2 separate regions of the Homo sapiens genome follow, and region 2 is linked to region 1. The links come from fine-mapping of genetic effects on gene expression. A gene starts in region 1. The other region holds a variant in brackets. All regions are shown on one strand. Distances are from middle to middle.

Region 1 (4,282 bases):
GAATGTTTTTGCTACTAAAGTTTCACTATAACAAATCTCAAAGAAATAAAATATACTAATAGGACATTTATGCTCTTCAAGGAAGTTCTGATGGGAGCATTTAAGTCTGGCCCCAACCTGGGGACTACCTGCTTACTTATTGTCCCCGAGGTTATAGTCATACCCTGAGGTCAGTGGCTTCAATCTTTCTGTAGTTGCTGGTCAGCTGTGGGACAGAACTGAATCCACCTCACATTCTATGTTGGGTACAGCTGAAATTTAGTGAGTTCAGCTGGGCACAAAGCTGAGTAATTTTCAAATAGAATAAAGCAAAGCTGTAATCTATATCTTTTTCTTAAACACCCTCTGTACCTACCCATTAGTAATAAATTTGGCTGGGTGGTTAGAGTTTGGGATGTAGAAGTGACTCTAATATTTAAGAGATGAGTCTGCTAGTTTACTCTTTTTTAAAATAATTTTTGAATTTTGAAACTTAATTTCTAAATAACACTCTCTAAAGAATCTAGATCAAAAATTGTTATTTCATCAGGAGCATTAACTAAATAAACACTGTTAATAATAGCATTGAAAATTATTACACACCTATTGGCTCAAGCTTATGGCTTTTGGTAGAAGAAATAGCAGACCATAATTCAGATTTCATTCATTCATTCCCATCAAGAGGAAAGGGTTTGCCGATCTAAATTTGAGCAGGTTGGTGAAGTATGCATATGTCTTTACAAACTTATTTCATAGTTTCATTTAACAAATCTTCAGGTTCAATTTCACCCTCAATACATGCCTTATAGAGATAGATATCACAATTATTAGATGAATTTATGATTTTAGGGTTTGCATCATACCCATATATTCACAAGTTTATAAATTCTGTTTTTAAAACCATCAGATCTTGTGAGACTTACTATCATGAGAACAGCACAAGAAAGACCTGCCGCCATGATTCAGTTACCTCCCACCGGGTCCCTCCCACAACATGTGGGAATTCAAGATGAGATTTCGGTGGGGACACAGCCAAACTATATCAAGAGTTTAACTGACAACTGCAATCATCCCAGACACCTGACCCCACTTGCCTGTACCTTTCCTCGGAGGTCCAATAAAAATGCCTGAAGCTCAGTGTTCCATTTAGGGTTCCACTTTCTCACCAGGATGTCTGTACAAGAGATGCATAGTCTTACGGGAGAGTAAAGTATATATCTTTAAACAATTTGTTTACTATGATATTCTACTAAGTGCATTTATTATCTTGCTTTCTCTCCTACCAGCAAAGGAAAAAAAATCATCTTAAGTAAATTTTTATAGATGATACTATCCCAAATTCTTCAACAAATGTTTTCCTGTATAATTTTTAAAAGGTTTGTTAAATGATAATGCCTTACTGATAGATTGTTGTATAGAAACTTTACTGGAAGGGATTCAGGAATACTGAAGAATGGAAGAAATCACAGAGAAGTCCAGCTTCTGATTCACCTTTGTGGGTGATATGGTTAGGCTTTCATCTTGAACTGTAATCCCCATGTATCAAGGAAGGAACCTGATGGGAGGTGATTGGATCCTGGGGGTGGTTCCCCTATGCTGTTCTCTTGATAGTGAGTTCTCAGGAGAACTGATGGTTTTAAAAGTGGCTCTTCCTTCTTCACTCTGTCTCTCTCCTGCCACTATTTAAGATGTGACTTGCTTCCCCTTAGCCTTCTGCCATGATTGGAAGTTTCCTGAAGCCTCCCAGCCATGCGGAACTGTGAGTCAATTAAACCTCTTGATGTGGTTTGGCTGTGTCCCCACCGAAATCTCATCTTGAATTCCCACGTGTTGTGGGAGGGACGCGGTGGGAGGGTCTTTCCTATGCTGTTCCTAAGCTCACAAAATCTGATGGCTTTATAAACAGGAGTTTGCCTGCACAAGCTCTTTTTTTCTTTCTGGCCGCTGTCCACGTAAGATGTGACTTGCTCCTCTTTGCCTTCTGCCATGATTGTGAAGCTTCCTAAGCCACGTGGAACTGTGAGTTCTCCATTAAACTTCTTTCCTTTGTAAAGTGCCTAGTCTGGGTTATGTCTTTATCAGCAGCGTGAAAACGGACAAATACACCTCTTTTCTTTATAAATTGCCCAGTCTCAGGTAGTATCTTTGTAGCAGTGTGAGAACAGACTAATACAGTGGGCATGTTCTGCTCCATACAATCTGACACTTGATTATAAAGTAATTGTTCGCTGTACGTTCTTTTATCTCAGAATAACCTGTTTTCTAATTAGTGCTTTATAGAGTGTTATAAAGTGTTATAAAGTGTTACAGAGTGTTACTTTAGCCTTTGCTTGCTGCAAAAGAAAAATTGGGCCAGAAATTGGCTATATATCTATCGGATCTCCCTCCCTCCCTTTCTATCTCCCTTTCTCTCTCTGACGAATCTAATCTGTGAACGATGGCATTTGAAAGCAAAGCAAAATGCAAAATACGCAAAAATAAAAGTTCTCTGGTGTTAGAAGACAGAAGAATCTTTTGAAAATTTAATTAAAAATTAAATTACCAGGCCTCTTCCTTAGAAATTCTGATGTGGTAAGTCTGAGCTGGTATCCAGGAATTTCCACTAAATAAGCTTCCTTGTAATTCCATTGCAGGTGATTCTTCTACTCATGTTAAAAACACTGGCTTAGGGAATCTGTATTAGGGATTATTCTGGTTGGCAGAATTTACCTATTTTCTAGCTATTCTACTGATATTTCCAGAACTGGTGGTCTATGATAAAGCATTTGAAACTTAAGTATTCGATTCTGGCTATTTGAAACTCACATTTTTCCCAGAAGGGCATTATTGTCCTATTATGAACCCAACAGCCATTCCTGCTTTCCTTTTTATTGACTTTTGCTTGACCTACTCAGAAATAACTATTATTTGGGTCCAGCGAGGCCCCAGGCTGTTACATATTTAGCACTTCTTTCTCCAACTCTAAGCCATCCAGCTTGGCTTAGCTATATAAAAAGCTCTTTCTCACAGCGGTGTTTCTGCCTGGTTGTTTATTTAGTGCATATCAGTTCACTGTTGCTTGCTGAATTGTTTCTTTTTGCTTGGCAGAGATGTTAAGTTCCCTGCTCCTATTGCTACATATTATCTGCAGCTTTCAGCCAAAATTATTAAGCAGATTTTGTTTAGTGAAGCTACATTTATTTAAAACAATTTTCTTTACCTGCAATCATTTGACTTTTTCATGATGTTCCTGCCTGATTTGCTTGAGATTTTTAATGATAATTCACCAAATAGTATACGGGAAGGTGGTTTATAAAATCATGTAGGTATTTGAATGGTTCAAAGGATTTTACTGTTCCTTCCACCCCAACATGTACCTCTTTTCATTGTAATTTGCTTGTGTGTGTGTGTGTGTGTGTGCGTGTGTGTTTTCATCCCTTCTCAGTTCTTGAAAAAGAAGTTGTGCCACATAATTAGTGGCCATTTAAGTCAGAGGTAATTTTTGGTTTACAGTAGCCATATGTCCTGATGGCACAGTTATTTCAAATACATTATTCAATTTTCTTCATGAATGTATTCATAGTTAATATGAGCGAGTCCTGAATTACGGGTGAGGGTTTATTTTCACCATTGCTCAATTTCAACAATTTGTGTTAATTCTACCTTCTAAACATCTCATGTATTCTCTCCTTTCCGTCCCAGTTGTCACTGCCTTAGTAAGCTGTCACTGTATTCTGCGGTGGACCATTAGGGGCCTGAACCTGAACTTCTATTTGCCCTCTGGATTACTCTGTTTAAATTCTTCCACTACACTTGAGTGATCCTGGACAATCTGCCTTCTCATGCCTCTGTGTCAGTGGTCCCCAACCTTTTTGGCACCAGTGACTGGGTTTGTAGAAGACAATTTTTCCATAGACTGGGGTGGGGGGAAATTGTTTCAGGATGATTCAAGTGCATTACATTTGTTGAGCACTTTATTTCTATTACATTGTAATATATAGTGAAATAATTATGCAATTCACCGTGAAGTAGAATCAGTGGGAGCCCTGAACTTGTTTTCCTGCAATCAGATGGTCACATCCGGGGGTGATGGGAGATAGTGACAGATCATCAGGCACTAGATTCTCATAAGGAGCTCGCAACCTAGCTCCCTCACATGTGCACTTCAAATAGGGTTTGTATTTGCTCTTAATAGAATCCAGTGCTGCTGCTGATCTGACAGGAGTTAGAGCTCAGGAGGTAATGCCAGTGATGGAGAGTGGCTGTAAATATAGATGAAGCTTTGTCCACTTGCTAGCCGCTCACCTCCTGATGTGAAGCCCAG
Region 2 (4,282 bases), 21 kb after region 1:
AACTTTATAAACATAATCAAGTATGTACAGTTGACACCCTTGAAAAACATGGGGTTTAGAGTTACCTAAACACACAGCCCCCTCCCCATGCAGTTGAAAATCTGTATAACTTTTGACTCCCCAGAAACATAACTATGAATACCCTACTGTTGCCCAGAAGCGAAGTTGTATTCTTACAATAAAGTAAGCTAGAGAAAATAAAATGTTACTAAGAATATTATAAGAAAGAATATATTTACTATTTATTAAGTGGAGGTGGATCACCATGAAGGTCTTCATCCTCACCGTCTTCACATTGAGTACGCTGACAAGGGATTGGTCTTGCTGTCTCAGGGTGGCAGAGGCAGAAGTAAATTCCAGGATAAATGGACACACACAGTTCAAACTTGTGTTGTTCGGGGTCAAGAGCATCTATTTCTATCTTTATCTACCTATATATTGGTATACATATATAAAGCTTAATAGTAATTTTAATAGCAATGAAATCATTCTATTTGATATTTGTTGACTTTTCTGTTTAATGACTTGAATAATTTTTTATATATCGTTATACTTAGATTTATCTCATTCATTCCAGCTTTTTAATATTAGTAATAGCCATTGGTGATTTATACATATAATATTAAGTATGTTTTCAATCTTTTGTAGAGTGTGTTAATGGAAATAAAATTGCTAGATTAAGGGCATGTGCATTTAATATTTTAGTAGATAACACTAAAATATTTTTTTCACAAAGACAGTACCAATTTACACTCCCATCAAAAATGTATGGTTTTTTTATTTCTACCAATGCTTACCAACACTAGCTATGGTAAGCTTTCTAATATTTTCTAAACTGAGATAAAAGTTATTATTACAATTTTTTAAGGTGCAGTTTCTTAGTTATAAATAATTTAGGGTATGTTTACAAAATCGTATTCATTATTTTAACGTATGTGTAAGGGTGTGTGTGTGTGTGTCTGTGTGAATTTCCTGTTCATGTCCTTAACCAATTTTAGAAATTGAGTTGTTTTTCCTTAATCTCAAATTTATTTATATTAATTATCCATTTTAACAACCTAGAGTTATTCAAAAATCCATAGATGCTTTAGAGGATGGGGTTTAGTTTTGCCAATATTGTTTTCAGATAAGGAGTTTTCAAGAGAGAACTTTGGTAAGAAATACTGCAGAAGGCCGTAGAAGTTAATGGCTAAAGAAGATTTACCACTCAATATTCTTTCACCTGCACCAGGCAATTAGCACCCTACTCATTCAGTCAAGAATATCTTTGAAAAATAACATGAAGTTGAAGTTCATTCTTCTTTTAAAGCTCAATAGAATCCTCTCTTTCGCCTTATGAGCACTTTAGTTTTAAGTTCTTAGGCTTTTTTTTTTTTTTTTTTAAATACATTTGTGCAGCTTCCATGCTGAAATATTCAAGAAGAGTAAAACACATCAAACGTATTTAAAGATAATGCTTGGGCTTGTGACCTCTGTACATTTGAATATATTGTTTTTATGTGTTCTGAATAACTTTATTCCGAAATAAGTTTCCACATCATTCAGGTTTGTTAAAGTAGTTAACACAAGGCTATTAGCAACTTTTAATAATAAATATTATACTAGTTCTAAGTTGTTCATTAGACATATTTTCCTTGGAAAATATTAACAGTATAAACATTTCATGATTAATAATAAAAATATATAACTAAAAATATGTAATTTTATTTTTATTTATTTATTTATTTTGTTATTATTATTTCTTGAGACAGAGTTTCACTCTTGTTGCCCAGGCTGGAGTGCAGTGGCACAATCTTGGCTCACTACAACTTCTGCCTCCTAGGTTCAGGTGATTCTCCTGCCTCAGCCTCCCAAGTAGCTGGAATTACAGGCATGCGCCACCACGCCCAGCTAATTTTTTTGTATTTAGTAGAGGTGGGGTTTCACTGTGTTGGTCAGGCTGGTCTTGAACTCCTGACCGCAGGGTGATCCACCTGCCTCGGCCTCCCAAAGTGCTGGGATTACAGGTGTGAGCCACCGTGCCTGGCCA[T/G]GTTTGTTTGTTTTTTAGAGATGGCCTCTTGCTCTTTCACCCAGCCAAGAGTGTAGTGGCATGATCATAGCTCACTGCAGTGTCAAGCTCCTGGGCTCAAGTGATCCTACTGCTTCAGCCTCAGTAAGTATAAATATTATCCATAGTGATAATCACATAAAAGTAGATATAAATAGATTCATTAAAAGTATGAACAAGTTTATTTTAGGATATATGGCAAAGACTAAATGGAAAATTTCAACAAAATTTACCTTAATTAGAAAGTAATCTTTACAAAACATATTTAGATGTTAAAATGTTGTCTATGAGGGAGTTAGCCTGATGTAAATGCTTTGTACAGCAGCTATTTTAGAGATGAGTCTCCATTGCTTGATATGATTGTCTTTTTAAAGATGCTGAATATAGATTTTAAGTTCTCAGAAGAAATTTAATAAAAACCTATTTTATGGCTCTCATTGTATATATGGAGATATTTCTGGTCTATTGGTAAGTTTATCTGAACTGGTAACTGAAAATAACAAGTTTCAAGAAATAAACTCACATAATCAAAATATGATTCCCTTTAATAAACCATTCTATTTTTACAAGAGTTACCACTGTTTTTGAAGAAGTTAGATAATATACTAAACGAAGTTTTCAGTAGCTGTTTAATAGTAATAGATTAGGTGTGTGCATTTTATTTCCAGTATTTCATTGAGTAGAGACCTAAGTGATATTTTAATTCAAATTCAGAAAAATGAAGAAAACCAATTTTTTTATTAAACCTTATGTGTAAAATAAACTCTATCTTATAAAAAACAAAATGTTATTTGCTGATTCATGCAGAAAACATTGATGCCAGCTCATAACAATAAATGGAGAAAATTTGTTGTAATATTGATTTTTAATTTGAATTACTGAAGATAGCGCTAATGAAAACAAATCTGAAAAATATCACTCTCCATCTATCACTGAGTGGGGTCAGGAAATTACTTCCATCATTATTTGTCTTCATTATTTAATGTAATATGAAGAGTCATCTTGAATTTGGAGAAACATATCATTTCAAGGTGACTATAAAACACAAAGCCTTGGCCGGGAGTGGTGGCTCATGCCTGTAATCCCAGCACTTTGGGAGGCTGAGGCGGGCGGATCACGAGGTCAGGAGATCGAGACCATCCTGGCTAACACAGTGAAACCCCGTCTCTACTAAAAATACAAAAAATTAGCTGGGTGTGGTGGCGGGCACCTGTCGTCCCAGCTACTCAGGAGGCTGAGGCAGGAGAATGACATGAATCCGGGAGGCGGAGCTTGCAGTGAGCCAAGATGGTGCCACTGCACTCCAGCCTGGGTGACAGGGCGAGACTCCGTCTCAAAAAAAATAAAAAAATAAAATAAATAAATAAAATAAAACATGAAGCCTTTTTTCTGGTGCATGTTCTTTGAATGTTTGTTAGAAGGCAGTAAAATATGGAGGCTCAAGGCAATGAAGTTTGGTGCTTTAGACCAGTGCTTCTCAAACTTTAATATATCTGTGAATTACTTGGAGAGTAGGTCTGAAGGGACAGGGGCTTAGAATCTTTATTTCTTTATTTTTCTTTTTTTATTTCCATTTCAATGGGTTTTGCGGTACAAGTGGTTTTTGGTTACATGGATAAATTCTTCAGTGGTGATTTTTGAGATTATGGTGCACCCATCACCCAAGCAGTGTACGCTGTACCTAAAATGTACTATTTTATCCCTCACCCGCCTATCAATCTCTACCCCCAAATCCCCAAAGTCCACTATATCATTCTTATGCTTTTGTGTCCTCATAGCTTAGCTCCCACTTATAAGTGAGAACATATACTATTTAGTTTTCCATTTCTCAGTTAGGAATTCAATCCACTTAGTTCTGAGTTCACTTAGAATAATGGACTCTAGCTCCATCTAAGTTGCTGCAAAAGACATTATTTCATTCCTTTTTATGGCTGAGTAGTATAATTAAATAGTCAAAAACCAATAGATGTTGGCAGGGATGTTGGGAAAAGGGAACACTTCTGCACTGCTAGTGGGAATGTAAACTAGCACAACCACTATGGAAAACAGTATGTAGAATCCTTAAAGAACTAAAAGTAGAACTACCATTGAATCCAGCAATCTCATTACTGGGTATCCACCCAAAGGAAAAGAAGTCCTTACATGAAAAAGACATGCACACGCATGTTTATAGCAGTGCGATTCATAATTGCAAAGATATGGAACCAACCTAGGTGCCCATCAACCAATGAGTGG

Direction of the effects. Alleles are on the strand shown, and positions count from the first base shown. SD is a standard deviation of normalised expression in the study named.
In carriers of allele G in region 2, the expression in gastroesophageal junction of the gene that starts at base 1,691 in region 1 tends to be higher than with T alone (moderate effect, 0.56 SD a copy in GTEx).

What was found. PIP is the estimated chance that this variant, and not a neighbour inherited with it, causes the effect. A credible set is the group of variants that fine-mapping cannot tell apart.
Region 2: its variant is the best candidate, but not a certain one, in a credible set for the expression of LINC02147 in gastroesophageal junction (GTEx, PIP 0.85).

The regions. Positions count from the first base shown.
Region 1 is chr5:117,728,671-117,732,952 of GRCh38, forward strand. It overlaps LINC02147 (long intergenic non-protein coding RNA 2147), which reads left to right and starts at 1,691. Exons shown (of 3, transcript NR_104997.1): 1 at 1,691-1,738.
Region 2 is chr5:117,749,755-117,754,036 of GRCh38, forward strand. All of the region lies in intron 1 of LINC02147 (long intergenic non-protein coding RNA 2147), which reads left to right. Among named protein-coding and RNA genes, the nearest start is that of LINC02147, 22 kb to the left of the region's middle. The variant T/G (reference allele first, on the strand shown) is at 2,030.